Linked DNA regions of Homo sapiens. The protein of the gene in region 2 interacts with the protein of the main gene of each other region in a biochemical or structural test. Each region holds a gene or a part of one and is shown on either strand. Other genes may lie near its edges.

Region 1 (3,000 bases), on a different chromosome or scaffold from region 2:
CAAGTGGATTCATGTTTGATTTTCAACATAAAATGGAATAACCAAAAACAAGACTCATTGCAAGTACCGGTTTACCAGCAACAATTTGAGATTCCTTGAAATACAGCTGCTTTGCTGGGTATCTGTGGGAATGACGGACTTCAGGGTGCTTGCTGTATGGTGAACTGAACTTGAGTGAATCTTAGCAGCCTCAGTAGAACAATAATTTTAAGAGTGTATTAAAGAAGAGCTTCAAACAATATAGTCCAAACTGAACCTCTAGGGAGCCATAGCAGCCTGACATGTAGTAATCAAAAAATCTTTGAGCAAAATCTTCTGTAGAATATTAGTTACATAAAGCCAACATGCAAATTGTTCTCAGTCCTGAAAATAGTGGTTACAGCCACAACCTAAAGACAAGTTCTATTTTTATATATTGTGAATAGTATGGCTTATGCCTAAACCGTAGACACACAGGTCTTGTTCTCACGCAAAGGGTGTATATGCTCATATGTGCTTACAACAAGGAGCAAGGATGGGTCACTGGTGGGAGGAGGGGTTGGGTGGTATATATAGAATACAGGAGAAAACCTCCATGATTTCTGACTTTACTAGCACTCCTGCTAAAGTAGGATAGCAACACTCACCTTTTAGAGACCTACACATTACAAAACCGAGCTTACAGAATGCACACAATAAATTTAAAAAAAATTTTTTAAAGCCAACAGGCAAAAATATGTCTATCAAATAACTCACGATGTTAGGAACAATCAACAGTTGTAAAAAAAATTTTTTTTCTCTACACTAAACAAGTGAATGTTTGCTTTTTTTTTTCCTTTTAAATAAATTATAGTTACTGATTGTGTTCATATTATACATAGTGGGATCAGAGTTGGAGGTTTTTTATAAATTCTATTGTTGTGGTACATTTTAATTTACTAAACTGAGTATACATATTCTTGGTAACTTTCTACCACCTCTAAAAATGAGTCTTTGACAGAATATATTGTGCAAAAAAAGATGATAGGAATTTTCTGTATAAATAGGGTGTTTTATCTCCATATACTGTTCTTTAACATAAGAGACCTTTTTTATTTTGCTCATAGTATGTTTGAATGTTTAAACATTTAAGTATTAAATCATGAACTCTATCTTATTCTTTAACTTTCTAGAGTCTTAAAAGCTGATGATGCCTTTAGGACTGAAAATTTTAAGGCTTTAATAAATGCTGTCAGACATGTTCAACAGCTACTATAAACCTTCTCTTAAACAGTTAAAACCACAGTTCTGACCCAGACCCACACAATATAATTAAGGCAGTTATTGGAGTAAGCTAGATTTGAAGTTAACGTAATTTCAGCCTATCATATTTTATACCCACACTTTTGAGGGACATTTGAATCTAGTGAGCTCTGAAAATATACAAGATATAGAAGTGCATATTGAGAGATAAATTTGAGTATATCTGTTAATGTTTATGTCTTAAGATTACTTTCCTTAAGTCTTTTAGTTCTTTTAATTCACCTTTCTTCCAGTAACCTCTCTGTTTGGCTCTTCTTTCCCAGATATCCCCCTTTGCTAGCCATTCCTTTAAAGGAGCAGTTAACCTGTGTGTAACCCAGATGCCTAATAGTTTAGGATGGGTGAAACTAATGACTCCCGGGGAACACTGGTGGAGTCCTGAGTCCCACATCCTCCTTACAAGCGGCTGTAAGAGGAGCATGCAGTAGGAACATATATGAACACCAGAGGATGTTATAGTGGCGTTGTCCAAACTTGAGTGGAGCAATTGACAGTTCCACATCTAGGTTTGTCAACAACAAATAACAGTTGGCTATACATATCTACTCTGAGTAGTTTAAGAACATTTTCTTTGGAGAGTGATTGTTCAGTTGTTACATAATCTCTAACTCACTGATTCTAAAAATTTTCAGATTAAATTAATGGGCATACCTGGAAGAAAAATAGCTATAGGTTGGTTGTCAAATAGATGGTGATTAGAATACTATTGGCGATTGATTTTTTTACTTGATATGAGTAAAGACCAGAATACAGAATAGTACATATAATAGGATATTCCATGGCAGATGTGTTTTATATGGTACTTTCAACTATTTGCCCCTGAGCTAGAGTATGAGTTAGATGTTTCTAAAAAGATCAAGTCTAACATGAATATATATATATATATATGTGTGTATACAGATCTTTAATAATATTTACTAAATGTTTTTATTTTTATTTTTTTTTTTAGACAGAGTCTCGCTCTGTCACCCGGGCTGGAGTGCAGTGGCACCATCCCGCTCACTGCAACCTCTGCCTCCCTAGTTCAAGCAATATTCATGTATCAGCCTCCCGAGTAGCTGGGATTACAAGTGTGCACTAACATGCCCGGCTAATTTTGGTATTTTTAGTAGAGATGGGGTTCCACCATGTTGGCTAGGCTGGTCTTGAACACCTAACCTCAAGTGATCCGACTGCCTCAGCCTCCCAAAGTGCTGGGATTACCGGTGTGAATGACTGTGCCCGGCACTAAATGCTTTTATGAATCCAGAAACTGTGCCCCCAGAGAGCTTATGATTTGATGAAGATAGGTCAGAGTATGGGCAGTATAAAGGAGTATAGTATAAAAAAATAAAAAGGAGCATTGGCAATTCAAGGTGGGATGAAATTGTGGAGGATTTTTTCTTTTCTTTTTTTTTTTTTTTTTTTTTTTTTTGAGATGGAGTCTTGCTCTGTCGCCCAGGCTGGAGTGCAATGGCGCAGTCTCGGCTCACTGCAAGCTCCGCCCCCCGGGTTCACACCATTCTCCTGCCTCAGCCTCCTGAATAGCTGGGACTACAGGCGCCTGCCACCACGCCCAGCTAATATTTTGTATTTTTAGTAGAGGCAGGGTTTCACTGTGTTAGGATGGTTTCGATCTCCTGACCTCGTGATCCACCTGCCTCAGCCTCCCAAAGTGCTGGGATTACAGGCGTGAGCCACCGTGCCCAGCCTAATTGTGGAGGATTTTTAAAGCTAATA
Region 2 (3,500 bases):
GTGAATCCATCGAGAGTGAGATTAGGCGAGAACGAGAGAGGCAGACAAACCCATCAGCCATGGTGAGTCTGCATCCTTTCCCCAGATGTGCCAATCATGGAGAGCCAGGCAGCAGCCACCACCATGCCCTGGAGTTGAGAGTAGAAGCTGTTGGAAAGATCATCTAACTGAGAAGAATTTTAATAGGGCATCAAAGATAAAGAATGCTGAGGTGAATCCATTCAATTTGGAATAAGGCCGAGAAGAGATGGTCAGGCTCCATTCTCAGTCTGAACCAAGCTCCATGAGGGAAATCAAAGTATGAGAGTGCAGCAAACACAGCAAGGTTTTTTTTGTTTTTTGTTTTTTGTTTTTTTTTTGAGACGAAGTCTCACTCTGTTGCCCAGACTGGAGTGCAGTGGCACGATCTTGGCTCACTGCAACTTCTGCCTCCCAGGTTCAAGCGATTCTCCTGCCTCAGCCTCCCGAGTAGCTGGGACTACAGGCACATGCCACCATGTCCGGCTAGTTTTTTGTATTTTTTTTTTAGTAGAAACGTGGTTTCACCACGTTAGCCAGGATGGTCTCGATCTCCTGACCTTGTGATGTGCCCACCTCGGCCTCCCAAAGTGCTGGGATTACAGGCGTGAACCACAGAGCAAGGTTTTGAGCTGAGATGAGACTCATATACTTATCCCTGATGGTTGGGGAAGGGATAGGGTCCACAGACCTCCCAAAATGAAAAGGCAAATTCATGTGTTTGTAAGTTCCATAAAGGTAAGATCTCTGTCATCTCACTTGTTTTCCACTATGTCTTGTGTTACCCTTAATTAATTCATTAAGTTCCAAACATGGGACTTAATGAGCAAATAAATGGCTTTCTTTCCCTTTTGAAGGGTCTGTGACATCCCTTCTCTCTCCCATAAAAGCTTAACAACTACTGATGAACTAATCCTAGGAGGTAGTCACATAAGTCACAGAAATTGGCCTCTCAATGGAAGAGATAGGTTTTGAGCTGGGCTGTGAAGAGAGTAGAATTTGAATAAAGGGAATAAGCAGCCCAAATAATGTGCTCTAGTAGTAGGATTGCAATCATTGGGAAACCCTGGGTAGATTTAAGAGTATATATGTCACTGGAAGTGAGACCGCTAGGTAGGATGTAATCCAAATGTGGTAAGCACTGAAAGCCATTGGCATTTCCTTTTAAAGTATTAAGGTTTATTAAGGTATGATATAAATACAATAAAATTCACTCTTTCTATATACCATTTCCATGCTTTATGACAAGTGTGTGTAAGTTCTATAACTACTACCACAGTTGAGACTTAAAATTTCTACTATCTCAAAAAGTTTCCTTAGCCACTTCAGTCAACATCTCCCCTCCTTAAGCCCCATCACTGATGTGATTTCTGTCCCTACAGTTTTCCCTTTTCCAGAGTGCATTGACAAGTTTTTAAGCAGAGCAGTGACTCAATTTTAGGAAGCATGGCCTAGCATCTTACCTCAGGTTGGATTGGAAGGGCAAGGAGACCAATAAACTGCAGTAATGGGAGGCCTGGGATGAAATCCAGGCTGGGCTTTAACTAGCCCTAGTGATCTGTGTTTACCAACTATAGGAGGTAGAAGAGGATGATCCAGTGCCTGAGATCCGTCGAGATCACTTTGAAGAAGCCATGCGCTTTGCGCGCCGTTCTGTCAGTGACAATGACATTCGGAAGTATGAGATGTTTGCCCAGACCCTTCAGCAGAGTCGGGGCTTTGGCAGCTTCAGGTAAGTTGGTTGGGAGCATTAGACAGTGCTTAAGTTACTTTGGGGACCTACACCAAAAGGGATGGGAGTCCTAAGGAAGCTAGAGGGGTAGTTGTGGAAATCTTACACAGGCCCTGTCCTAACCCTCTTTTTTGGCTTTGCTCTTGTACACAGATTCCCTTCAGGGAACCAGGGTGGAGCTGGCCCCAGTCAGGGCAGTGGAGGCGGCACAGGTGGCAGTGTATACACAGAAGACAATGATGATGACCTGTATGGCTAAGTGGTGGTGGCCAGCGTGCAGTGAGCTGGCCTGCCTGGACCTTGTTCCCTGGGGGTGGGGGCGCTTGCCCAGGAGAGGGACCAGGGGTGCGCCCACAGCCTGCTCCATTCTCCAGTCTGAACAGTTCAGCTACAGTCTGACTCTGGACAGGGGGTTTCTGTTGCAAAAATACAAAACAAAAGCGATAAAATAAAAGCGATTTTCATTTGGTAGGCGGAGAGTGAATTACCAACAGGGAATTGGGCCTTGGGCCTATGCCATTTCTGTTGTAGTTTGGGGCAGTGCAGGGGACCTGTGTGGGGTGTGAACCAAGGCACTACTGCCACCTGCCACAGTAAAGCATCTGCACTTGACTCAATGCTGCCCGAGCCCTCCCTTCCCCCTATCCAACCTGGGTAGGTGGGTAGGGGCCACAGTTGCTGGATGTTTATATAGAGAGTAGGTTGATTTATTTTACATGCTTTTGAGTTAATGTTGGAAAACTAATCACAAGCAGTTTCTAAACCAAAAAATGACATGTTGTAAAAGGACAATAAACGTTGGGTCAAAATGGAGCCTGAGTCCTGGGCCCTGTGCCTGCTTCTTTTCCTGGGAACAGCCTTGGGCTACCCACCACTCCCAAGGCATTCTTCCAAATGTGAAATCCTGGAAGTAAGATTGCACCTTCTTCCTCTCCTGATCAACATCGGTATGATGTCTCCTGTTGCCTCACCCTTTGTCTGCAGTATCACTGGATAGGACTGGTGGAAAGGGAGCAGCCTGACAGAGCTCCAAATGTGGAGAATATGGCATCCCTCCACCTATATTTGATGTGGACGGTAAGGCTAGGCCTGCAGGATCCCTTATCCTGACCAAAGACTGTGTTGGGGTGCCATTTGAAAATCGCAGGGTTGCAAAAGAATACAATCTTACTTGCAGGTGGATATTCTCTATACTCTCTTTTAATGCATCTAAAAATCCCAAACATCCCCTGGTTGGTGATCACTTACAGTTGTGTCCACCTTTATTTTATGTACTTTGATTAAAAAAAAAAAACTTTTTGTTAATATAAAATTTTAGTATTGAATTTTTTTTTTTTCCAAACAGAAAATAGACTATCCTCTTCAACAGTAATCACTTAGTGCTTCTAGGGTCAGTACAGTGATGCCTTACCCAGAGAGAGAGTAGTGCAGAGAAAATAAATTACTAAATTAAATATATGTTGATTGGCTTTGGGACATAATCTCAAAAGACAGTCCTGAACACCGTAATTTTGAATAAAATACTGTAATCTCCAAAGATCAAAATCCCTAAAGTCTAAAATTCTGAAAATCACAATCCCAAAAGGTCAAAATCCCAAAATACAATTCTGGAAGAAATACTAAACATTCTTCGAAAATTTACTTACATTTTTAAAAGCGTATTTATTTGAGAAACAACACAACAGAACGTTTCATAGGCCACTACACGATAAAATAGGGAATAGTAACATTTTTGCAAGATAAACACTCA

Evidence for each region. The genes of interacting proteins can lie anywhere in the genome.
Region 1: the proteins of VCP (region 2) and NGLY1 form a complex in vitro, tested with the Homo sapiens proteins (2 studies listed by BioGRID).

What each region holds. Positions count from the first base shown.
Region 1 is NC_000003.12:25,721,444-25,724,443, reverse strand, and holds part of NGLY1 (peptide-N(4)-(N-acetyl-beta-glucosaminyl)asparagine amidase), read left to right. Parts: intron 1-1,544; coding exon of another isoform or gene 1,545-1,709; exon of another isoform or gene 1,710-1,767; intron 1,768-3,000. UniProt on the Homo sapiens protein: Specifically deglycosylates the denatured form of N-linked glycoproteins in the cytoplasm and assists their proteasome-mediated degradation. Cleaves the beta-aspartyl-glucosamine (GlcNAc) of the glycan and the amide side chain of Asn, converting Asn to Asp.
Region 2 is NC_000009.12:35,055,626-35,059,125, reverse strand, and holds the end of VCP (transitional endoplasmic reticulum ATPase), read left to right. Parts: coding exon 1-62; intron 63-1,595; coding exon 1,596-1,750; intron 1,751-1,903; coding exon 1,904-2,009; 3' UTR 2,010-3,062; downstream 3,063-3,500. UniProt on the Homo sapiens protein: Necessary for the fragmentation of Golgi stacks during mitosis and for their reassembly after mitosis. Involved in the formation of the transitional endoplasmic reticulum (tER).